2 separate regions of the Homo sapiens genome follow, and region 2 is linked to region 1. The links come from fine-mapping of genetic effects on gene expression. A gene starts in region 1. The other region holds a variant in brackets. All regions are shown on one strand. Distances are from middle to middle. Region 1 holds the start of TMEM237 (transmembrane protein 237). Region 2 overlaps CATSPERT (catsper channel auxiliary subunit tau).

Region 1 (17,266 bases):
TTACAAACATGGAAAGGGGAAGTCTAGAATGAATCCTGTAGTGTTGGATTGACATTGTATGTACTGGTGTGAACTCATGGTTTTCAATATATAGACATACAAATATAGATCGAAATGTGCATGTGTATTTATATGTACACATAGAGTTGCTAACTCTGTCTACTGAGAGCACCTGGAAACAGCTCTGAAGATACCAGAAAGCCCTATGATTCGAAAGGCAGATTAAGCAGGAATCTAGGAGCTTAGAAATCATGACCCATGTGTCCAACTTTGCACTGATCACACAGTCCTAAGCAACCACCTAACCTGTCTGTGTCTTAGTGAAACCACCTGAAAAATGTGAAAAATGAGCCTGCTCCACTCTTTCTACCCTGGCCCAAGCCACCCTCATCTCCCACCCAGACCACTGCAGTAGCTTCCTAACTGCTCTCTCCTGAGGCCACACTTGCTCTCCCTACGGTTTACACCAACCAGAGGAGTCTTTCAGAAACATGAATCAAATCATGTCACTACCAACAGCTTCCCATCACACTTCCACAACAATCCAACACTTTCAGAGGCCCTGTGTGATCTGGCTCCAGCCACTTCCCTGACCCTATTTCCATACTCCCTGTTGCTTACCGCCCTGCAGCTATACAGGCTTCCTTGCTGTTCCTCAAATGCTCCAAGCACAGTTCGTTTCTCTGCACCACTGCACTTGCTGTTCCCTTGGCCTGGCTTGCCCGTCTCTGCAGAGGCTTCCTGATGTGGCTCCCTGCCTTCCTCCAGATGTCTGCTCAACGCCAACCTTTCAGAGATACTCCAACCTTACTGCCTATCTAAAAAAGCACCCCCATCACTCTCTATCTACCTCATCTTCTTATGAGTACTTATTTTTTGTTGTTTTTTATGTTTGTCTCTCTTCTTCTACAAAATGTAGATTTCATGAGAAAGTGGCCTTGGATTAGTTGAGCCATCTATCGCCAGCACCCAAGACAATGCCTGGCCCAGAGCAGGTGCTAGATGGGCTAGCACAGGGGGCATTTTCATATTTTTCCCTCATATTACTTCCCATCTTCTAACTTCAGACAGACCTGACTATATTAATGAACACTTTAGGATCATGGTTGCTACATATTTCATCAGGTGTGAAGCTACAAGTGATCTCTCCTGCCTGGTTCTTACGTTCTGTGCACTTCCCCTCCCTAGCTGGCTTCCGCCGCAGCATGCGCCTTTGTCGCAGGAAGTCTCACCTCAGCCCGCTGCATGCCAGTGTGTGCTGCACCGGCAGCTGCTACAGTGCAGTGGGTGCCCCTTACGAGGAGGTGGTGAGGTACCAGCGACGCCCTTCAGACAAGTACCGCCTCATAGTGCTCATGGGTATGTCCCAGCATGCACTGTCTCTCCTCCTCCTTGAGAAGTCTTCCTTCTAGATTCAGGTGTCTTGCATTGGGAATAATGGTGAAAGTAGAACTCTTTATGGACCCCCATACAAATACCTTTTTTAAAAAACAAAGCCATTGTACATGTGTGTTTATAAGTAACATTTTATTGTATCAAGCTTTTTAAAAAATCTACAAGTGAATGTGTTATGACATGGTGTCCATGAACTATATAACCAGTATTACGATGTCATTATGACTGAGATTTTTTTTTTGCCTGCTTAGAATTGTTCTGTAAACATAGATGAGTGTTTCCCCAGACAGATCATTAACCTGTATCCTGAAAATAAATTCTTAAGGTCCATTTCCCTGAGAAATATGTTAAATTCTTAAAGTCCATTCCCCTAAGAAATTTGTAACTACTTCCTTTAGAAAAGTATCTAACATCTTCTGGACTGTATCTTTGGTGCTTTATAAAGATCATGGCAAAGATAGTGCAGGAGTGACCTGCTTTTGTGACCATGACTTTTGCAAAGTTGGTCCCTGTAGCAGTAGCAACTTGTATCCTACTGCCTTCGTGTCTGCCTGTTTAGCTTCATGAGCAAGGCAGGTCCCTGTAGAGCAGAACGATGTGCCTTACAGCTGGGACCAGCAATATCATTTGCAGGCCCCATTGTAAAATGCAAATGCAAGGGCCCCTTGTTAAAAAATTATCAAAGATTTCAAGATGCAATAGTAGAGAATTCATCCAAGCACAGTATCCTTCTAAGCATGTGCCCTGTGTAACTGCACAGGTTCTATACCCATGAAGTCGGCCCTGCCTCCGGCCGGACATGGGGGTGCTGATCGATCATCTGTCAGGAATGTGCCCCTGAATTCTGTAAGTCACAGAACCTATAATTGTTGATGCTGGTTTCTGGCTGTCACTTGATAAAAACCTCATTTGAAGAAGAAAGGCAGAGCTCTCTGATTCTCTAAAATGAGACCAGCTAATTCTCATGGCATTCAACATTAGATGAAGTTTGCTGGGGGTCAGGTTCCTGTGATTCCTTACCTCATTCCTGAATGTTGAAACAATGTGGATTACTCCATGGGTCACTAGAAAAATTCCCAAGAGTTTTCTGGGGTTCTTCCAATTTATGAGAAAGGAAGTTACATAATTTCCCTAAAAATATTTGCTCTCAAGTTTCTTCAGTAGAAGGACTAAAATGATAATTCCATCACATAATTATATTTATCCACATCTGATGATTTCTGTGTGTGACTTTTTGTGTTTAGGACCCTCTGGTGTTGGAGTAAATGAGCTCAGAAGACAACTTATTGAATTTAATCCCAGCCATTTTCAAAGTGCTGTGCCACGTATGTTTAGTTCTGCTTTCATAATGGTTTGTGTTTTGGTAAAACTTTCTTTGCTGATCTCATTTAACTATGTCATTCCATCTTTGTTGTAAAAGTATACAACACCAGGGATAGTTCTTAAGTATTTCTAACCATATTTATTTTAATAAGGAAAACTGACTTATTGGAATGTAGGCAGCTGGCTTTTAAAAGGGCTTTTTTCTTTTTTTAATTATTATTATATTTTAAGTTTTAGGGTACATGTGCACAACGTGCAGGTTTGTTACATATGTATACATATGCCATGTTGGTGTGCTGCACCGATTAACTCGTCATTTAGCATTAGGTATATCTCCTAATGCTATCCCTCCCCACTCCCCCTACCCCACAACAGTCTAAAATGGCTTTTTTCTATTTCTTAACATTATAGGGATGGCCTTTCAGGCAAACTAATAGTTAGCAATAATAGTTAACATACACCCAGTGCTTACTATCTAAAAATTGATATATGCCTATACAACTTTATATAAATTTATGAGTATGATTATAAAATACACAGCTTTTTAAAAAATGGTGTTTTCTGGCTGGGCACGGTGGCTCACTCCTGTAATCCCAGCATTTTGGGAGGCTGAAGTGGGTGGATCATCTGAGGTCAGGAGTTCAAGACCAGCTTGGCCAACATGGTGAAACCCCGTCTCTACTTAAAATACAAAAATTAGCTGGGTGTGGTGCTGCATGCCTGTAATCCCAGCTACTCAGGAGGCTGAGACAGATAATCGCTTAAACCTGGGAGGCGGAGGTTGCAGTGAGCCGAGATTGCACCATTGCACTCCAGTCTGGGCGAGAAAGTGAGATTCTGACTCGAAAAAAAAAAAAGTGTTTTCTTATTTCCTTTTACTCGTAACTCCTTTATTTCTCCTAAGCTCCCCCTTTACTACTACCAGCTCCAAAGCAACTCCTAAAACGTAATCTTCCAGACTTTTCTCTATATAGAGTTGTGTGAGTTTTTTACCCATTTAGAGTTGTTATATGAAGTTTTTTTTTAAGCTTTAACATTTGAGAGCTACAATTCTAAAAATAGAAGGAATTATTTGTTTCATACTGAGATTCATCGTTCAAAAAAAACCTTTAAAATCACTCTAAGACAACCTGTTTTATTGTAAAAATAGAAAAGATCAAGACTTGAGATAGAATTCCTGATTTCAACAAAATAGAAAGTTCATAATAATGCATGTTTATAATAATGTATAATAATGCATCGTTTCTAATATGTGTAAAAGAAAGTTAAAATTTTGACTGAGGCACTAAGATGCACATCTGTAACGAGGAATGTGAAAACAAGTTAAACTCTTCACACACCTCGAGGGTATAAAAGGCTTGGGGAGGGAGATTCATGGGGCTTTTTGGGGAGGCTTTTATTGGAGAGAGCGGTGCTGGGTGTTCCCGACCCACTGAGTGTGGGAAGAGTGTGTGGGTGTGCTTGCTTCCCCCTCCCCTCAAGGCAAGACAGAGGAACCTAGGGGAACCACTTGGAGAGCTTCCTATGTGTCTTCTGCACTTTGGGGGACACAGAAGAATGGTGTCCGAATTACACCTGAAAAATCCAAAGGAGAAGAGCTTACAGGAAGTGGCCAATGGCTATAATTTGGGAAGTAGCTGTCCTTGTAGGGTCCATCACAGCTAGACTTGTGATGTTCCCCAAGGACCAGATCTGGGCAGGTAATGTATAAGACAGTCAGCCCAGGGTTATATGATTCCTGCCCAGGAGGAAGCCTGAGGAGAAAAAGGCCAAAAGTGGATTCCCAAATATATCAGGCTTTGGAAGGAATCACAGATGACAAACTGGAATAGGAATGGACTTGAGAGGCCTTGTGTTGGTGAGATAGGGTTTGCAAAATAACCCAATATATCATTTAGGAGAGAAAGAGCCGGATTTAAGGATCTGCCAAATCTAAAGAAAGCCAATAGCAGCCAGAATCAGTATTTGCCAAACCAGAACCTTCCTTCCTGCTTTCCTCTCCCTCCCTGCACTCTAGCCTTAGAGAGTTCTAAACCAGTGGAAGTGAGATCTATCGGGGGCAGAGAGAAGCAGGAGCAGTAGAAATATGGTGAAAGGAAAGAGAAGTGACTCATACTCTCGTCTGGCTCTCGTCTGGCTTCTCTGAGCGCAGGCTTCCCTGGTGCAGCAAATTTGAGCCAGATGTGTGGAGAAGCAGCCTAAAATCTAAGTGAAGTTTATAATTTTGATGATTATGTGAGAATGGAATTTTAATTAGTCAGTTGAGACTGGATGATGAAAATGAAATTGTGGCATGAGTGATGATAGACTTTTAAAATTAAACCTGAGTGAAAGAGTCATGGAAACCGCTAGTGTTTTTTGTTTTGTTTTGTTTTGTTTTAAGACGGAGTCTTGCTCTGTCGCCCAGGCTGGAGTGCAGTGGTGTGATCTTGGCTCACTGGAACCTCTGCCCCATGAGTTCAAGTGATTCTCCTGCCTCAGCCTCCCGAGTAGCTGAGATTACAGGCACCCACCACCATGCCCAGCTAATTTTTGTAGTTTTAGTAGAGATGGGGTTTCACCATGTTGGTCTGTCTGTTCTCCAACTCCTGAACTCAAGTGATCTGCCCACCTCAGCCTCCCAAAGTGCTGGAATTATAGGCATGAGCCACCACACCCGGCCAGGAAACTGCTAGAATTTTGTGCAGGGGCTGGGGAAGATCTTGCCTCACATAAGGGCTGTGGGAGACCAAGAAGTTGCTTTATGATCGCATGCTATAGGCTGTGCTTTCTGAAGTACTGCTTTCATGTACAGGAATGTGCATTAATCTGAAAAGCAAAAACTACCAAAGAAATCAACATTTTCCTTTTCTTTCTTTTTTTTTTTCTGTTTGTTTTGTTTTGTTTGAGATGGAGTCTCACTGCATTGCCCAGGCTGGAGTGCCGTGGTGTTATCTCGGCTCACTACAACCTCACCTCCTGGGTTCAAGCAATTCTCCTGCCTCAGCCTCCTGAGTAGTTGGGATTACAGGTGTACGTCACCATGCCTAGCTAATTTTTGTATTTTTAGTAGAGATGGGGTTTCACCATGTTGGCTAGGCTGGTCTTGTACTCCTGACCCCAGGTGATCCACCCGCCTTGGCCTCCCAAAGTGCTGGGATTACAGGCGTGAGCCACTGTGCCCGGCCAAAATCACCATTTTTCGATAGTCTGAATAAAAATAAAATGCCCACAGAATATAGAAGAATTTTAAGAATATCAACGTAGATTTTTAATCATTCAAAGTGAGAAAATACTGCTCATATTTTGCTTTTTAAATTGAGGTTTTAAGCTTAAAATGGATACCTCGAGTTATACATCAATTCACAGACTTTAACCTACCATATAAATATTAGTCCAGTGGAAGCAAAGGAGGAGTCATCTTGGGTTTAGATTGACATAATTCACTATCACCTGAGAGCTATAAGGTTTTACTAGAATTTTGTTTTAAGTAGGAAGCTATGGGAGATGTGATGTAACTGTAGGAACTCTAAGGATCTGATGAGAGGCTTGAATAAGGAAAAAACAAAAATGACCCCAAGATGACATTTGCTTTTAGACCCCCTTGAAGGTTGGTAACTCCTTTGATAATTTAAGGCCGGTTTCTAGCTTCTACTTGATCATTTCCATGTATTGATATCATCAGATGTTGATCTATTTCATCCTTAAACTTTGTCAGATGCAAATACACAAATTCTGTATGAATAAGGGGAACTAATGGTAATATAGATTAAGGGACTAGCTTTACAGTATATAGGATGCAGAGTTGAAACTGTCTTACTCATCTTTGTGTTTTCAGAACCTAACATGATACCTGGAACATAGTAGGCACTCAGTACACACTAGTTGAATAAATGAATGAGCAGACAACAAATAACTTTTAGATATTTGATGAACTCCTATATTCTATACAACCTGGCACTATTTAAGTTGAAGAGTCTGTAATCAAAGTGGCCATATCAAAGAATCAGACTGAATCTAGACTCAGCTAATCTTTCCCTCCTAGAGATCCCTAAAACGAATCACCACTCGGTTGGGTATTAATGCATCTGGTCAAGATTGCAGAATGTCATGGGCTTTCTCCATTTCAAATTTGAGAATCTATTGTTGTAAAAAACACTCATCTAGAGGAGTCAGAACACGTAGGTTCTAATTTCAACTTCGCTTTTCATCAGTCTTATGAATGTGAGCAAGTTTCTCCAAAAGCTTTTCTTATGAGTAAAATATAGATATTAACAGTTTACCTAAGGTAAGAGTGTGGAAGATGAAATGAGATCATGGGAAATGCACTATCCAAATGTAAGATATTATTGGTATTGCTACCTGGGAGCTTTCAGGCATCTAAAGGTTCACACATAATTCACTAGCACTTATTTTGAAGTAATAACAGGTGTTCCCTTAGGTCTTTCTTATGCTGGCTTAATACCTAGTGCATTCTTTTTCATACCATAAGCACTCAGTAAAGGTTTATAGACTAACTGATTTTGATACGAGAACTTATCACCAATTCAGGCTTCTTCTTTTTAGTTCTAGCATTTTATCTCCTTGATTATATATTCATTTATTTATTTTGATTAGATATCTTTATTCAAATGCATATTGGTAATCAAAGAATTCTGAAGACACTGAAACCTTTCATTCCCTTTTTCTGATAGACACTACTCGTACTAAAAAGAGTTACGAAATGAATGGGCGTGAGTATCACTATGTGTCCAAGGAAACATTTGAAAACCTCATATATAGTCACAGGTAAAGTAGAGGTTCAGAAGCTGATTCTTACCTCTTGTTGTTTTACATTTGAAATAGATTCCCTATTTTTATGTATTTTCCAAATCTCCTGGGTAATTCCTTTTGTTTCTGAGGAGTTAAGCAAGAAATGTACATCGATATACAGCACACCAACTCACTGGGTTTAGAAAGGGAGCAGAATGGAGTCTGCAAACCTTGGAGAACTTGAGGAAATACATAAACTCTAGATATGCTCATTTTGTTCACCTCTTGAATATCTATTCATTCTTTCTGTGTTAATAAAGTCCACATATTTATATTCAACTCTAGTGCAGTTTATCCTCATGTTACTACTAATAATATTTTCCTTGTAGAAAGTGTTCTGTTTTGTTTGGCCTGCTCTTGCAGGATGCTGGAGTATGGTGAGTACAAAGGCCACCTGTATGGCACTAGTGTGGATGCTGTTCAAACAGTCCTTGTCGAAGGAAAGATCTGTGTCATGGACCTAGAGCCTCAGGTGGGTCCATGGTGGAATATTTATGTCCCCAAACAATGAATGCGTATCATCCATTTTTTGTGCACATGCTGTAGGTTATAGTTGAGACATTTATTCTGTTAGCCTTTTAAGAATAAGGCCATTTCCCATATATAAGATCTTACTTAACGTGTCAATTGACAACATTTTACTTTTAGTTGGGAAAGAAGTCTTGCTTCTCAGACAGAAAAGCAGAACTGATTGAGTGGTCACAAAGAGAAGCAAGAATCTTTCTTGCTTTAACCTTGATCACAAAGGCATCAGAGTAACTTCTTGTGGAGTGAATAAGATGTTGCTTTGTACAAGGAGGTGAGGTTTCTATGTTGTCATATCTGTGGCTACCTTCCTGAGACCACATGTAGAATGGAGCAGGGGTGAGCAAGTTAAGGTAAGATAAACAGCATGCAATCCGTAGGCCCAATTTTTATGAACTTTGTATTTTCTTCGTGTGTGTGTGTGTGTCTGTGTGTGTGTCTGTGTTTGTTTTGTTTTTTGAGACAAGGCCCTGCTCTGTCATCCAGACTAGAGCGCAGTGGCATGATCTCCGCTCACTGCAACCTCCGCTTCCCGGGTTCAAGCAATTCTCGTGCCTCAGCCTCCCGAGTAGCTAGGACTACAAGCACAAGCCACCATGCCTGGTTAATTTTTGTATTTTTAGTAGAGACAGGGTTTCGCCATGTTTGCCAGGCTGGTCTGGCAATGGAACTCCTGGGCTCAAGTGATCCACCTGCCTCAGCCTCCCAAAGTGCTGGGATTATAGGCATGAGCTACTGCGCCCAGCCATGTTTTCTTAGTCATTTAGAAATATACTTTGTGTGCTAGAGAATCAGAGGAAAACAGATGGTAGTAGTATCCAATGTGAGATAATAGCAAGAGGAAAGGGAAGTGAAGGTGAAACAGAGCTGATCCACCTTGAGAGTCTGTCTTTGTCTTTGTCATATGAGATCATGTATAGAATCCTACTCTCAGTAAATGAGATTCTCTCATGTATAGACTCTTACTCTGCTAGTAAGATTTCAATTGCTAGTCATAGCTAATAAGAGTCAGGATCTGACCTTAATTTTGATTCTAAAACTACATCTTCAAATTTTTAAAATGTTCATTTGTTTTTTAGAATTGAGGAGTTGAGGGTACATGAGACTATACTCTAAAAATAATTGCTAATTTCTGGTCTTAGAAATTTTGAGAAGCTTCATGTTCACTCTAGAAAGCTAGGACTTCTGTTTTTAAATGTGCATTTAGATCAGGTGCAGTGGCTCATGCCTATAATCCCTTGGAAAGCCGAGATGGGAGGATTTCTTGAGGCCAGGTGTTTGAGACCAGTCTGGGCAACATAGTGAAACCCCATCTCTACTAAAAATACAAAAATTAGCTGGGTGTGGTGGCACACGCCTATAATCCCAGCTACTAGAGAGGCTGAGGCACAAGAATTGCTTGAACTGGGAAGGCGGTAGTTGCAGTGAGCAGAGATCCCACCCCTGCGCTCCAGCCTGGGCAACAGAATGAGACTCAAAAACAAAATAAAACAAAACAAAATAGCTGGGCATGGTGGCACATGCCTGTGGTCCCAGCTACTTGGGAGGCTGAGATGGGTGGATCGTTTGAGCCTGGGAAGCTGAGGCTACAGTGAACTGTGATTGCACCACAGCACTCCAGCCTGGGTGACAGAGCAAGACCATGTCTCAAAACAAAACAAACAAAAAATAAATGTGCATTTAAATTTTCTGTGTAGGATATTCAAGGGGTTCGAACCCATGAACTGAAGCCCTATGTCATATTTATAAAGCCATCGAATATGAGGTGTATGAAACAATCTCGGAAAAATGCCAAGGTTATTACTGACTACTATGTGGACATGAAGTTCAAGGTAAGAGCAAGTCAAAAACTACTGTATTGCTTTCAGTGGCTTCTGCGTGGGAGAGATCTGGGTTGGGCTGGGCCAAGGATCTCTGATCTCATTGTCCTCCTCCTCCTTTTTGACCCCCTCTCCAAAAGGCCCTCAATAAAATGGTTTACTATGGTTTTATTTAAAAAAAAAATTAAAACTGTATTGTTTCTACAGGATCTGTGTTAGAGAATGTAATTTTTGTTTCTAATGGATAATGCCCTTACGATTTATCCTTTTGGATGGACATCACTTACAGATATAAAGTTTAATAAATGTTATGATGCTACCCTTATTTTTTACTTTCTTATTTTTTTGGGTCTAGCTTAAAAAAAAATCCTTGAGCCGTAGTTTGCAAAGCCAAACAGAAATTGGGCATGTATGAGCCTGGTGTTTGTATTTTAAACAGAATATCTTTTACTTAAAAGCTTACTTTAAAAATGCTCAGTGAGTATATCTCATCTGTAAAATGATGATGGTAATAATAGAGGGGGCAAGCCAAGTGAAATTAATCAGTGATCTCATCCTAGAACAGGTGATTTTTTTTCCGGTTGCGTACATATATTTTACATTAAATATGCTTTAAATATTGTGTCATAACATACATTCAGTAAGGTGTACAGAGTGTACAGTTTAATGAATTTTTATGTGTGTATGCACCCAGATAACCATCACCCACATCAAGATATTACAGCCACTTGTGTGTGTGTGTATATGTGTGGTAAAAATACATAAAACTCACCATATTAACCGTTTTAAGTGTACAGTTCAGTGTTAGTATTTAGTGTTAAGTATATTCACATTGTGTGAAACAGAGCTCTAGAATTTATTTACCTGGCAAAATTGAAACTAAAAATATGAATGATTCACTAAATATTTGTATGTCATGCTTGTACAAGGGCCATGCTAATCTCTGCATTGTTTCAGTTTTAGTCTGTGTGCTACCAAAGCAAGCACAGGTATCTTTAAATTATCCTTTCTCTTATTATTTTTATTTTCATATTTTTTGCAATGACTATGGAGGTCTGATTTTCCAGTTTGCCTTGTGAACAGTGGAGTCCATGAATGTATTTGCTGAGTCTTATGGGCATTTAAAATTGTTCTCATTTTTATGGCAGTCTAAACAAATTAACAAAATTGTTTCTGGATCATATGTATGGTCACTTTGTAAAGCCACAAGATTTTGGTGCCTGCATTTGTGTTTCAGATTGTATTGGTGACAAGTTGTACTATTTTCATGAACTAATAAGAAAATAACAGCAATGAATTTAATGCATTAGTGCCAAGTGAATGCCAAATTACCTTCATTAAATGAACATTTCACAATAGTAGAAACATAATATAACTGGCTTATACCATCCTCATGTTGAAAGTGGCCATTTTGTATCTTTAATGTTATCCCTATCAGATTAATGTTCACTTGAAATTTATGTTTAAATTTTATTTAAACTGGTACATTTTCTTTGGTTTTATGTTGTATATGGTTAAAAAGTTTCAAGTGTTTAGGTAAGAGTAAGATAAGTTCACACGGGAAGTTGAGGGGAGTAATCTGTCTGCAAACTATGACTAAATTTTGCAAAACATGACGAGACATTAAGACTAAAGATTAAAACATAAGTTTTGTAGTTTAGAAGACATTTATTGGACCTCATTTTTTAAAATAAAAACTTCAGTCTTTTATTATTTAAAAAAACTTCCAAATTAAAATTTCTTTATCTCAGTAATACATTTCTAAGAAATAAAGGATGACATACTGTGGATAGTGATATACTTTTCCCAGCTTTGCTTATGCTTCACATTAATTTAGAAGGATATGTTTATACCTGTTATAATAATTATATTTTCTCTACAAAAATTAGCTGGGCATGATGGCATGTGCCTATAGTCCCAGCTACTTGGGAGGCCTAGGTGGGAGGATCACTTGAGCCTGGGAGGCAGAGGCTGCAGTGAGCTGAGATGATCCTACTGCATGCCAGCCTGGGACAGAGTGGGACCCTGTCTAAAAAAAAAAAAAATTATTTTATCTATACTTAGCCACATTATTTCAATAACAGAGGGCAAAAAAATTACTATTTTCTAGTTTGCTGGTTTTGTAGAATTTTGAAAAAATATTTTTGAAACTTTATTGAAAATCATCTGTGCAAAATTTTCGGACCTTACTGTTTTTATACATAGTTTCACAACTGAATGTGACAGCATAACAAACTGTATTTTTTCCATTTGTCCAATTAAGTCTGTACTATCCATATTTTTCTATTTCTCCTAAAGGATGAAGACCTACAAGAGATGGAAAATTTAGCCCAAAGAATGGAAACTCAGTTTGGCCAATTTTTTGATCATGTGATTGTGAATGACAGCTTGCACGATGCATGTGCCCAGTTGTTGTCTGCCATACAGAAGGCTCAGGAGGAGCCTCAGTGGGTACCAGCAACATGGATTTCCTCAGATACTGAGTCTCAATGAGACTTCTTGTTTAATGCTGGAGTTTTAACACTGTACCCTTGATACAGCGATCCATAGTTGCAATCTAAAACAACAGTATTTGACCCATTTTAATGTGTACAACTTTAAAAGTGCAGCAATTTATTAATTAATCTTATTTGAAAAAAATTTTTATTGTATGGTTATGTGGTTACCTATTTTAACTTAATTTTTTTTCCTTTACCTCATATGCAGCTGTGGTAGAAATATGAATAATGTTAAGTCACTGAGTATGAGAACCTTTCGCAGATTTCACATGATCTTTTTAAGATTTAAATAAAGAGCTTTCCTAAATAAAATAAGCAATAGTTAACTTTAGAAACTGTACTCTATGAAACGTGTTTTATGAAAACATCTTTTACAAAAAGTGCTTACTTGACTAACTCAGCAAGAAAGGTTTAATGTACACATTTCACATCTAAAATCAAAACCTACAAGAAACTGCACTGCCTTCACTATTTACAAATCGGCCTACAAGGAAAAAATTATTCTCATGAGAGGTGTGACAAACACTAATTTTCCTTAACAGCCAATATCTACATGCAGGCCTAAATTAGAAAAAGGCAATGGATTAATCCCAGAGACCTATATATAGAAAATCACAAGAGTGAAACCGTGTCTCAGAGTTAAAGAAACCAGGGACTAACAGAAATTCTTGAGCATGCAGGACGGCAGATAAAAAACAACTTGCTAAATAAAACGCCTAAACTTCTTCCATTGTGAGATTAAAAAACAAAACAAAACAAAACAAAGCAAACTGGCTGAAAGTGGTTAGTACTAACACGGATGGCTACCTGGAGTCTGTACAAAATGAGCTTGCTGGCGTCACAGCTTGAATCTTTCCCCATGTTTCACACTGACTCCCTCCAAAATTTGCACATGCGACCCATGAAGGGACATGAAGAGGTAACTGCGAACGCCAGAGGATTTTCCAGATGGCTTCTTTCCTTCCACCAATCACCTACTAATCCCAGAATCCACCCCCTAAACGTTTTCTAATAAAAATACTGTCTTAAAGCCAACACAGGGAGACAGATTAGAGCTATACTCCTGTCTCCTTGTTAGCTGACTCACAATGAAAACTTTTCTCAAAAAATCAGCGCCATAATATTGGCTTCTGTGCGTATAGGGCAACAAGCCCCGTTTGTTTGGTAACAAGATTAGGATGCCATTACAAAGTGCTGTTTCTCTTTCTTTCCCCAGATTTGAGATTTCCAGGCGCTTTCCCTGTCCCTGTATCTGTTCATCTTCTGCATCATTCTCTTCTCCATATCCACACCATTCTTCCATCTTTCCCATTTCTTTCTTAACTGTAAAACAGAATGCATGATTCAAAATATTTGTAGTTCTCTGTTACTTAAAGTGAAAGTTATCTTTAAAAAAAAACAAACCCAACCAAACCAAACGATGCAAATCAGGTAGTTTGTAGTGATATTTATGTGAGGTTGGATTTGATTTTAAGGTTGAGAAAAAGTTTTTCCAAATTTGATTTACACAGTTGTGGGATGAAGGGTAAGCAATCGGAGAAAATGTGAGAATTGCCTATATTAATACACATCCACACACCCAGGCCTGCACAGACTCGTTGGTCCTGGAGAGTAAACGCATTCCTCCCAAACCCAGCAGCGCCTGGCAGGACAGAGGCGGGCGGGGACCTGGCTCAGGGGGCGGCTGCCTCGCCAGGCGCCACGAAGCCCCGGCGTCCCACAGGTCCCGGAGGCCGCTGCGTCGCGGGGAGCTGGGCTCGGGCCGCCGGCGGTTGCGCCGGGGCAGCCCCGCGGGGAGAGCACCATGAGGACTGACTCGGGGGCTCGGCTGGAGGAGGGCCACCTGGTGAGCGGCGAGGGGCGCGTCGGCCTCGAGAGGTGGCGGGTAAACAGCTACACTTGGCAGTGGGGGTGGGTGTGTGTGGGGGGGCGCCAACGAGCTGGGAATCACTAAGGGAGGGCCTTGCTCGTGGGGTGCGCGCATCCGCCCCTCCAGTGTTCACAGGAATGGGACGGAGACGCAGGCGAGGCCGGGACCGAACTCCCGGAGTGGGAGAGAGAGGCCTGGCATGAAGTTTGCGGGGACCTGAGCCCGCGTTGCCACGACGACGCCTCACTCATCTGAGGCCCGGGGCCCGGCGGGTGCCGGGGCTTCCAGCCAGGCCTCTCCTAGACTCCTCCGAGGAGAGGTCTGTAGCTGCCCAGAAGAGATCTGTTCGCCTGCGGAGTCCTTTAATTAAGGTCTTCCGTCACGCCCCGCTTCCCGCAAACAAATCACCGCCACCACTTAGGAAACCACGGGAAAGCTGTGATTGCAGCGCCACGGTCGCCAGATTTCTGCTCCTGGGCACATTACCCCCAACTCCGAGGCCCCCTTTTTGGCAGGGCTAGTCTGGACTGGCCAATCCAGGTCCCTGCACGCCTCTCACCGCAACATCCCCGCAGGGCGCTGCGCGCGGGGTACTAGCCAGGCGGCGCGGCCCGATGACGCATTGCGCCTGCGCGCGCGACCGAGCCGGGAGGGGTGGGGCGCCAGGTGCTTGGGGGCCGGCGGCCGCCGAGGCCGGCTAAACGCAGAATGGGGAAGAATCCTGTGGTAAGCGAGCCTTAGCTACTTTTAATTGTTAGGATTTTTGTCTTCAGTTGAGCCGTCCTACTTTTGAGGATTAGAGGTTGGGTCTCTGGGTGGGTGGAACGTCATTTTTGCGGGACTTTTGAAATCAGTTACGTGAACAGAGCCCTGGGATCGATCGCGCGCGCTTCGTAGCATCTTTAGAACAATAGCGCGTTCCTGTGACTGTCATTCTTCTCCAATTGTAATTTTGACTACTGGATGGTATTACGGCAGCTTGCCTCGTCCTAATCTTGTAGTACTTGCATTAATCTACTGTTCGAACGAATGGATTGCTAAATGGGACAAACTACAAGAGTGTCTAAAATTTAACCCTTTTGAATAAATGTCTTATGCAAGCAGCATGAGATACTTGGAACATTAAATTGGCTTCTAGGCATTTCTGTTACTATATGATTCTAAAATACTTCTCAACTGTAATGCTGTCTGAACTACAAACACTTTTCTTATTCATGTAAATGAGGGTTTAGAAGGGTTCCCCCCACCTTTCTTTCTGCCCTAAAACGCATTCTTCCCAGTGTATGCAACTGGCCTTTTTAAAAATTGTGTTAGTATGTGGTTTAAAACCTCCATTTGTTTCCCATTGAATTAAAACAAAATCCAAACTTCCCTTGGTCTGCAAGGCCCTAACTAATCTGGCTCCTGCCTACCTCTCCTTGGTAATTGTGCGGCAGCCTTGCTGTCCTTTTACCTGAAACATTCCAAGCCCAATTTAACCTAAAAATATTTGCATTTGTTCCGGTTGCTGCTTTCTCATTCAGGTCTCAGCTCAAACTCAGAGAAACTTTCCCTAACAAAAGTAGCACTCAGTCTCCTTCATTCATTACGTTTTGTGTGTGTGTATCTTGTGTATATATATATATATGCACACACGATATGTATACAAGATATGTCTTAAATATAGCATATAAATATATTTTATCGTACATGCTGCATATAATATATAGTATATATTATCATATATATATTTTTAACATTGTTTCTAATACTCAACCACTAGAATGTAAGTTTCATAAGAGCAGAGTTCTCTCCATTGTGTTCATTAGTGTATTCCTAATGCTTAGAAAAGGGCCTGGCCTAGAGATGGAAAGGAATGTAGGAAGGAAGGAATTTTATATGAAATTTAGGATGGGAGAACAAATTTTAAATTGCCCATGTTTCTCATCAGTACCTCCCAGGTTTCACTGATGAACAAGATTATCAAGAGATTTGAAGATCCTAGTCTGATCCATTATATTTTTCTGTCATGTCTGAACAACAGACTTTTGAAAGAATTGCTTTGGCCGGGCGTAGTGGCTCACTCCTATAATCCCACCACTTTCAGAGGCCAAGGTGGGCGGATTTCCTGAGGTCAGGAGTTCAAGACCAGCCTGGCCAACATGGTGAAACCCCGTCTCTACTAAAAATACAAAAATTAGCCGGGCATGGTGGTGGGTGCCTGTAATCCCAGCTACTTGGGAGGCTGAGGCAGGGGAATTGCTTGAACCCAGGAGATGGAAGCTGCAGTGAGCCAAGATCGTGCCGTTGCACTCCAGCCTGGGCCACACAGCAATACACCATCTCAAAAAAAAAAAAATAGCGTGATGGTATTTGAAGTAAAGATGCTCTAGGCTTTTACTTACAAGCAAATTTATTTTTTCCGCCACAGCGTCCTCCACGAGCTCTTCCACCTGTGCCAAGGTAAAAATAATTTACAGTAATTTCATTATTGAGCTTTAAAAATGGAAAATGAAGACAGTGGAAAAATTGACTAGTATCATTGCAAAATTACAATGATTCAGGAAACTCTTCTGAAAAATTTAGGGATTTTCTGAAATTTTAAAGGTGAAAAATCCTTGAATTTTAAGAATAACAGTTATAATGGAATGTTATATTTAAAAGCCTGAATATCAACATGGTAGGATAATGGATCCATTCCCTTTCTAACTGTTTTGGTGTCTTTTTTTTTTTAAATCAGAATTCTGGTCTTTTGTGAGAATAGTTTCCTCAGAGTTTAAGCTGATTTTAATCAGTCACAAGTAAGAGTTCTTAATCTGCTTAATCCATTTTATTAATAGACAGTAGGGAATATGTATATGTAGGTTCAGAAAATATTGACATTATTTTATTAGCAGTGTTATTAAACCACTTAATTATAAACAGTAAACTAGTTTGTAAACTAGCTATTATGTGAAAGCTAATTTTATTTTAAATTTGTAATGATTTAAGTCAATTTTCACTGTGAATATTAACAGGTTTCTAATTAATTGTTTCTTTTTTGTCTTTGTCCTGCTGATTAAATT
Region 2 (8,000 bases), 43 kb after region 1:
TTACTGATTTCTAGTTTTATTCCATTGTGGTCTCAGAAGATACTTGATATGATTTTAATGTTTTAAAATTTGGTAAGACTTGTTTTGTGTCCTAAGATATAGTCTGTCATGGAGAATTTTCCATGTGGTGATGAGAAGAGTATGTATTCGGTAGCTGTTGGATGAAATATTCTGTAAATGTCTGTTAGGTCTATTTGGTTTAATGTGTAATTTAAATCCCATGTTTCTCTGTTAGTTTTCTGTCTAGATGATCTGTCTAATGCTGAGAGTAGTGTGTTAAAGTCCCCAGATATTATTGTATTGGAGTCTATCCTTCCCTTTGGATGTAATACTATTTATATATCTGAGTACTCTGGTGTTGGGTACATAATATATTTAGAATTGTTATATCCTCTTGCTGATTTGACACATTTATCATTATATAATGACCTAATGACCTTTTTTTAAATTGTCTCTTTACTGTTTTTTACTTTAAGTCTATTTTATCTGATATAACCATAGCTACTTCTGCTCCTGGCATAGCTATTCTTGGAATATTTTTTTCTATCCCTTTACTTTCATTCTGTATGTGCCTTTACAGATGAGATGAGTTTCTTATAGGCAGCATATAGTTGGGTCATGTTTTTTTTTTTAATCAACTTTTTTGCATTTTTCTTTCTTTCTCTTTTCTTTTTTCTTTCTTTCTTTGTTTGTTTCTTTCTTTTTTTTTTTTTGAGACAGGATCTTACTCTGTCACAGAGGCTGGAGTGTAGTGGCATAATCACTGTTCACTGCAGCCTCAACCTCCTGGGCTCAGGTGATCCTCCCAACTCAGCCTCCTGAGTAGCTAGGACTGTAGGAACTCGCCACCATGCCTGGCTAATTTTTATATATTTTGTAGAGACGTGGTTTTGCCACGTAGCCCAGGCTGGTCTGGAACTCCTGGGCTCAAATGATTTGCCCACCTTGGCCTCCCAAAGTGCTGGGATTATAGGCATAAGCCACTGTGTCCAGCGTATTTTCTTTGTAGTATTGGTGAAGTGCAGTAGTGAGAAGTGGGGAAAGCATTTTGATTTTTTTAAAAACATGCATTAAAATATTCCTCGAGGGTCACATGCCCAGAGAGAGCATGAGAGCTCCATGCCCCTTCCCCTCTACCAAAATTTTAAAAAAAAGTGTATACACATTATTATCATGGTGACTGAGTTTTTTGGCATTCAGTTAAGTTTTGTGCCTGAGGCTGGGTATGATGGCTCATGCCTCTAATCCTAGTACTTTGAGAGGCCAAGGTGAGAGGATCACTTGAGCCCAGGAGTTTGAGGCTACAACGAGCTATGATTGTACCACTGCATTCCATCCTGGGTGACAAAGCAAGACCCTGTCTGCCCCATGACCCAAAAAAATTATGCTGGAGGCAATTACCCTATATGAGTCCCAGCTCAGCCAGCAGGTAGTAGGTGCTAATAAATGCTTATAGAAGGAATGCTTACCATATGTAAAATCTAGCATTGCTGTCCCATAATGCAAGCAGCATTTGTTGCTAGAGCTACATGACAAAGCTCCACAGACTGGGTATTTTAAACCTCAGACATTTATTTTCTCACAGTTTTGGGGCTTGGAAGTCCAAAATTAAGGTGGTAGAGTTGGTTTCTTCTGAGACCTCTCTTCTCAGCATATGGGATTAGGGTCCACCCTGATGACCTCATTTTAATCTAATTACCTCTTTTAAAATCCTATCTCCAAATACAATGACATTCTGAGGCACAAGGAGTGAGGATTGCAACGTATGCATTTTTGGGAAAGGCAATTCGGTTTTTAACTAGAGTAAACTCTTAAGTATTGATTACCATATACCAGGTACTGTATATTAGTTGCTTTCTTTATATTAATTTTGTGTGTGTGTGGACAGAGTCTTGTGTGTGTGTGTGTCCCCCAGGCTGGAGTGCTGTGGCAAAATCATAGCTCACTACAGCCTTGAACTCCTGGGCTCAAGCAATGATCCTACCTCAGCCCACAGGCATGTGCCATCACACCAGGCTAATTTACTTTTATCTTTTGTAGAGATGGGGGCCGGTATCACTAGGTTTCCCAGGCTGGTCTCGAACTCCTAGGCTCAAGCAGTCCTCCTGCTTTGACCTCCCAAATTGCTGTGATTACAGGTGTCAGCCACCATGTCTGACCTATTTATATTAATTTCCTTAAGTCTCACAAGAGCCCCATAAAATAGGTTCTGTTATGATTCAGCAAATTGCATGCAGCATCTCTGGGTTAGAGAGGTTAAGTAACTTGCCCAGGGTAACACAGCCAGAGAGGGCAGAAGCAAAATGTAAACTCAGTAGGTCTGGCTTCTTTTACCCAAATCCGAAAGATCGGGTCATGTTTTTTTGATCCATTTAGCCAGTGTATATCTTTGAAGTGGAGAGCTTAATTCATTCACATTCAAGGTTATTATTGATAGGTGGGGGCTTATTCTCATCATTTTATTAATTAATTTCTTGTTTTGTGTGTACTTTGTTCCTTTCTTTCTCCCTTACTATTTATTATAGTTGTTTGGTGGTTTCTGTAGTAGTAACATTTGAATCTTTACTTTAATCTTAACTCTGCAGTTAAATATATTAACTGCTCTCCATAAGTCTTTTTTTTTTTTTTTTTGAGACAGAGTCTTACTCTATCGCCCAAGCTGGAGTGCGGTGGCGCGATCTTGGCTCACTGCAATCTCCACCTTCCGGGTTGAAGGGATTCTCCTGCCTCAGTCTCCCAAGTAGCTGGAATTACAGGTGTGCACCACCACGCCCAGCTAATTTTTGTATTTTTAGTAGAGGTGGGTTTTCGCCATGTTGGCCAAGCTGGTCTCAAACTCCTGGCCTCAAGTGATACACCCACCTCGGCCTCCCAAAGTGTTGGGATTACAGGTGTGAGCCACCGTGCCTGTCCTCTCCATAAGTCTTATCCTGAAGTTTTCCCCACTATCTTTTGGTTTGGTTGAAGCTCATCTTTTAGTAGGTTTCTTGGGAGGGGCTCAAGAGTAAAATGTTATCTGGAATGCCTGTTTCATGTATTTTT[T/A]AAAATAGCCTTGATACATGAATGCTGTTACTTTGTTGGATAAAAATAGACTTGGTTGGATAAAAATCCTTGGCTTGACCTTCCTTGCCTTGAACTTTATAAAAATACAGCTCTGCAGTTGCATTGCTTTGTATGTTGCCCTTGAGAAATATGATGCCAGTCTTATTTCTTATCTTCATAGATAATTTGGTCATTTGCCTGTAGGCAAGATGTCTTTATAAAGCCTAATAATCTTACTAGGACACATCTTGGAGTTGATCATTATGAGCCAGTTTTTCTAGACACATGGTGAGTCCTATCCACATACAGATTTTTCTCTTAATACTTAAATTTTTCTTGGATTATAACTTTAAACATTCGTTTTTCCTCCATTGTTTTGTTTTACTTCGAGGATTTTTCATTTGCCTGCCTTCCAATTCAACCATTTTTCTCTGACCCTTTATGCTTCTTTCTCTATCTCATTATCATTCTCTTCACTGGTTCTTATCTTCTTCAATGCCCCTTATAAAGTTTTTTTGAATCGATGCTACCTTTGGGCACTTTATAATTTAGCATTTATTTCTGGGATGGTTTGTCTTTTTTAAAAATTTCTTTTCTGAATTGATCAACACTCATTTCATTTTTTCTTTCTTCTCTTTGGTCAACTTCTGTTTTAATTGTTGAATAAATGAATGAATTGTTAATTGTAGGCTTAAAAACATCTCCAAATGCTTGTTTGAAGATACTTAATTCAGTTTGAAATCTTATGTTATAATTTACTTCTGTTTTGTGGTTATTTGGGAGGAAGAATTTTTGTCATCTGAAGATTTCTCCCCATTTTCTCCCTATAATAGCTTTTAATGGAGTTGGTCGGATTTTCCGTATTTCTTGGCCATGGTCATTTCTTTGCCATAGTTTAAGTGTACTCTCTTCTTTCAGTGTATTGAAGCAGTTTTTTTTTAAATGGATGAAGTTGTAATTGATGGGAGGTAAGGGGAAAGGAGGGGCATAACCTGTTGTTCTCTTCGGTTTTTCTGGTATGCTTAATTTTCCCCTCTTATATCCTTCTTTCTCTTCCCTGCCATGTATGCAGGGATACCTCTTCTTCTCTGATGCCTTCACCCCAGAAGCAGTGCGCATCATGATGAGCTACTTCTGGTCCTTCTCTTTCAGGTCCCTTCTCTATGGCCATTGCTGTGAACTACCAACTCCTAGACCTGTGGTCAGAATTTTTGTGCTCAATGTTGAACTTTCTCTTTCTCAGGATGATTTTGTCTGTGCTTCCTTTTGTGTTCCCTACTCCTCTCTGTTCTTTTCCAGCATCTCTTAAGATTTCTCTTTCCTTGCTTTCTGTCCCTATAGTGTGTGTGTGCATGTGCATGTATATGTGTGTATATGTGTGTGCATGTGTGCATATATATGTTTGTGTATGTGTGTGTGTGTGTGTGTATGTATATATATATTTGATTGAGTAGAGATTCAGACTCAAAGTATCTCCTATACTAGGGCCAACTGGAATTCTCTTTATAAGCTTTTCAAGATATCCTACTAAATATTCAATTTCTTAACAAACTGAAGAACTATGTACTTTTCTCTTCTTTCATGATTCTCTTAATTTTATATTTGTGTACATTTTTATTTCTCTACTAACTTCTTATTGAGGATAGGGATGAGTTTCTTAATCATATTAATACCCCAATACCGAGGAGACCTGACACTTACTAGAGATTCATACAATAATTATTGAATTGATGTTTCATCTAGTTATGTTTGTCTTTCTCTTCCCAAATCTTAATTTATTTACATTGTAGATGCTGAGAAAAACTCTTAAAGAGTCTGATAGTGAAGAACTGGAAATAACACAGGAGACGCCAAATTTGGTGCCATTTGGGGATGTGGTATGTATGAGTAACCCTCAAAAACCTGTATAAGTTATTTATTATTTGATAATCAAACAGTATATGCAGAAAATGGTTCTCTCTGATGGCGTATTTATGAATTTTTCATTTTTATGAGTCAGAAAAACATTGTAATAATCACTGAAATTATGGAAAACATCCTGATTCACAGAAATAATATCTTCTATATTAGGGATTCCCAAATCTAGTTATATCGGAATTACCTCAGATGCTTTTTATAAAACATTAACTTGAGGCTCCACCTAAGATCTGCTAACTTAGAATCTCTAGGAGAGGAGCCTGGGAATCAGTAATTTTACTGAGCTCTTAAAGTGATTATATTTATTGCTAGATCATGCTAAAGTCTGAAAATTGATCCTGCGCCCCTCCCCGATCCAAAAAACCTCCTAGAAACAAAAGCAAACACCCCCCTCTCTCTTTCACACACACACACACACACACACATACACACACACACCACACAGAGGGAGGACGCAGTATCTAGGCTGAGAACCAGAAAAATCTGTTATTCTGTTTTCAAAGTACAGAACAAGACATGAGAATCTACATGCATATAGAACTGTCAAATATTATGACATTCATTTACAGTTATTTTTATTTTCTGAACACTATTAGAGTGGTAACTGGGTATGAAATAAGAATTTTTCTTGTCCCTCTACCTCCTATCATATACAATGTTTAATATAATATTTCTGTTGTTTTTACTTGGTTTTAAATACTAAACATGGCTAAATATATTTGGCTAATTCTCATATTAGGATTCAGATGTTCCTGCATTTATTTTGTATTTGATTTTTTGGTTAAGCACATGATGCAATTTTCTTTAACATTTAGAAAAACTTGGTGCAAGAGCATGAATATTTTACAGTCCTTGGCATGTTATAGCCAATGAATCATTGCTGAATGAATTAAGTGGTCTTAGGACACTGGATAAAAGAGTTTGTCTGAAATAAGGCACATTTCTTAATTTTATATGCAGGGTGCTATATTTTATCAGTTCTCACCTAATATCAAATAAAAACAATTTAAAGAGTGATGATCAGATTTATGTTAATAATGAATTATTATTCTTTGGCTTTGTATTCTTGTTCATTTTAGGTTTACTTTGAATGTGGCCTGCGCATTTTTCTTCTGTATTTCTGCTTTCCGATGATTTCTATTAACTAGATATTTTTCATGAGAAACAATATTTCAAATGAGAAAAACCAACAACGTGGAGTTTTACTTTTTAAAAATAGAGCTCAGTGTAAAGTGAAAGAACAGTTAACTTTTTAAATGCATTCACTGTCTGTGTTTTTGTTTTGATTGTTGTAGGTTGGCTGCCTGGGCATTCATATAAAGAACTGCAGACATTTTATGCCTAAGAGTATCCTTTCTTTTGATTTAAGAATCATAGTAATTATATCTCACTGTTTCAGTTATCCATTGCTGCATTACAAACCATTCCAAAACTTAGTGGCTTAACACATTGACCATTTTATCATCAATCACTACTGTTCATTCACTATTTGCTTCTTCTGCTTCATGATATAAAAGCTTGGGCTGTTGTCTGACAGTTCAAAAGGGCTAGAATATCTGAAGTGGCCCATTTACATGTCTAGTTGCTTTAGTGGGGATGCATGGAAGGCTAGACTTAGCAGGGATGCTGAAATGGTTGGATCTCTCTCTCTTTCCCTAAGTCCTATCATGTTTTATCCCCCTTTATTAATTTTAATTTAAAAATATATCACAGTAATATATTATTTATCTTGATTACTAGTTGTTGGTGTCCCCTTAAATTTTGTGCTCTAGTTGAGTGCCTTTTTGGCTTACTAGTCCCAACCCTAGTCACATTCCATTACATTTTATTGGTTAATGTAATCATAGAGCCAGCCCAGATTTAGTGGCAGGGGAAATAAAGTGGACTTTTTGATGTGAGAGTAACAAAAGCTTTTCAGCCATCTGTAATCACCTCAATCACCATATAAATGAAAGGAAAAATATATATCTTCTTGTATGATAATGCTAATTTATTTGTAAGTAATGTGTGCTTCCTTTAAACATTTTTAAAAGGATTTAATTTATATTGGTGCTTTTAAACAAGCTGAGTGCTTATTTTTAGATTTATCACAGCATAAAACCAGCCTCATTATGGAGATTTGATGTTTCTTTTTTATATAAAGAGAATTTTGGAAAATAATTCTGTATAATGAGATTTTTGAAGATAGTTAAATCTTGAAACAAAATTGTTTTACTCTGTAGCATTCTATGAAAGATACAATACAGACCAATATAGTATAAATGAACTATATTCTTAAGTGAATTAGAGTAGAACACTTTTTGTCTCAAAATTAAAAATAGGTTAATCTGATATATTTTTAAATATTTTGAATTTCTACATAATTTTCCTTAGGAAAAATTTCAACTATATATTGCATATACTTAGTCACCTTGAAATTAATACATAGCAAAACTTGCAAAGGAATTTTGTTGGAAATGTGAGGTTAAAAATATAAGGGATGTAAGGAAGAATCAACCTTCTTTTACTTATATTGTGTCCACCAGTGATGGGCAAAAATACTATTTTAGAATACTTTTTTTCTATTGTTTAATGCTACATGATTGATTCTTAGGTTTTGGTCTGAATCGTTTAATGTATTAATTTTATAATGTATTATTGTTCAATTACAACAAAATTTATTTCCTGAATATCATTCTATTTTCAGTCAGTTTACAACATTATGCTAATTTATTCATTCGCATCTCTATAAACAAAGCTGTGAAATGTACAAAAATGTGTAGCTTGCTATCCAAAAACGATGAGAAGAACACTGTAATTAAGTTCGATGAAGTGAAGTATTTTTCTGTACAGGTAATGTTAATATCTCTTCTAGATATTAGAATGGCTCCTTATAGTTCCAAATATTCTACCCTAATTCTGTCTTTTTATAAAAATGAGTAGAAAAGAAACAAAAGCAGTAAGTGCCTTTTTATTTGGTATCTTACAGTATTCTATTTCTATACCATGGGCTATAGTGGTGTTTTAAAAAAAGAAACAATTTTACTGCGAAATGCATAATC

Evidence for each region. PIP is the estimated chance that this variant, and not a neighbour inherited with it, causes the effect. A credible set is the group of variants that fine-mapping cannot tell apart.
Region 2: its variant is the best candidate, but not a certain one, in a credible set for the expression of TMEM237 in left ventricle (GTEx, PIP 0.87).

Annotation. Positions count from the first base shown.
Region 1 is chr2:201,640,291-201,657,556 of GRCh38, reverse strand. TMEM237 (transmembrane protein 237) reads left to right here and starts at 14,054. Exons shown (of 13, transcript NM_001044385.3): 1 at 14,054-14,198; 2 at 16,633-16,664. The coding sequence starts at 14,157. MPP4 (MAGUK p55 scaffold protein 4) reads left to right here. Exons shown (of 22, transcript NM_033066.3): 17 at 1,189-1,359; 18 at 2,640-2,720; 19 at 7,392-7,485; 20 at 7,873-7,981; 21 at 9,732-9,866; 22 at 12,153-12,683. The coding sequence ends at 12,347. It also overlaps the pseudogene RNU6-651P. RefSeq lists silencers at 13,936-14,195, 14,766-14,955.
Region 2 is chr2:201,601,530-201,609,529 of GRCh38, reverse strand. CATSPERT (catsper channel auxiliary subunit tau) reads left to right here. Exons shown (of 16, transcript NM_001168221.2): 2 at 4,833-4,919; 3 at 6,255-6,306; 4 at 7,646-7,791. Among named protein-coding and RNA genes, the nearest start is that of CATSPERT, 14 kb to the left of the region's middle. The variant T/A (reference allele first, on the strand shown) is at 3,043.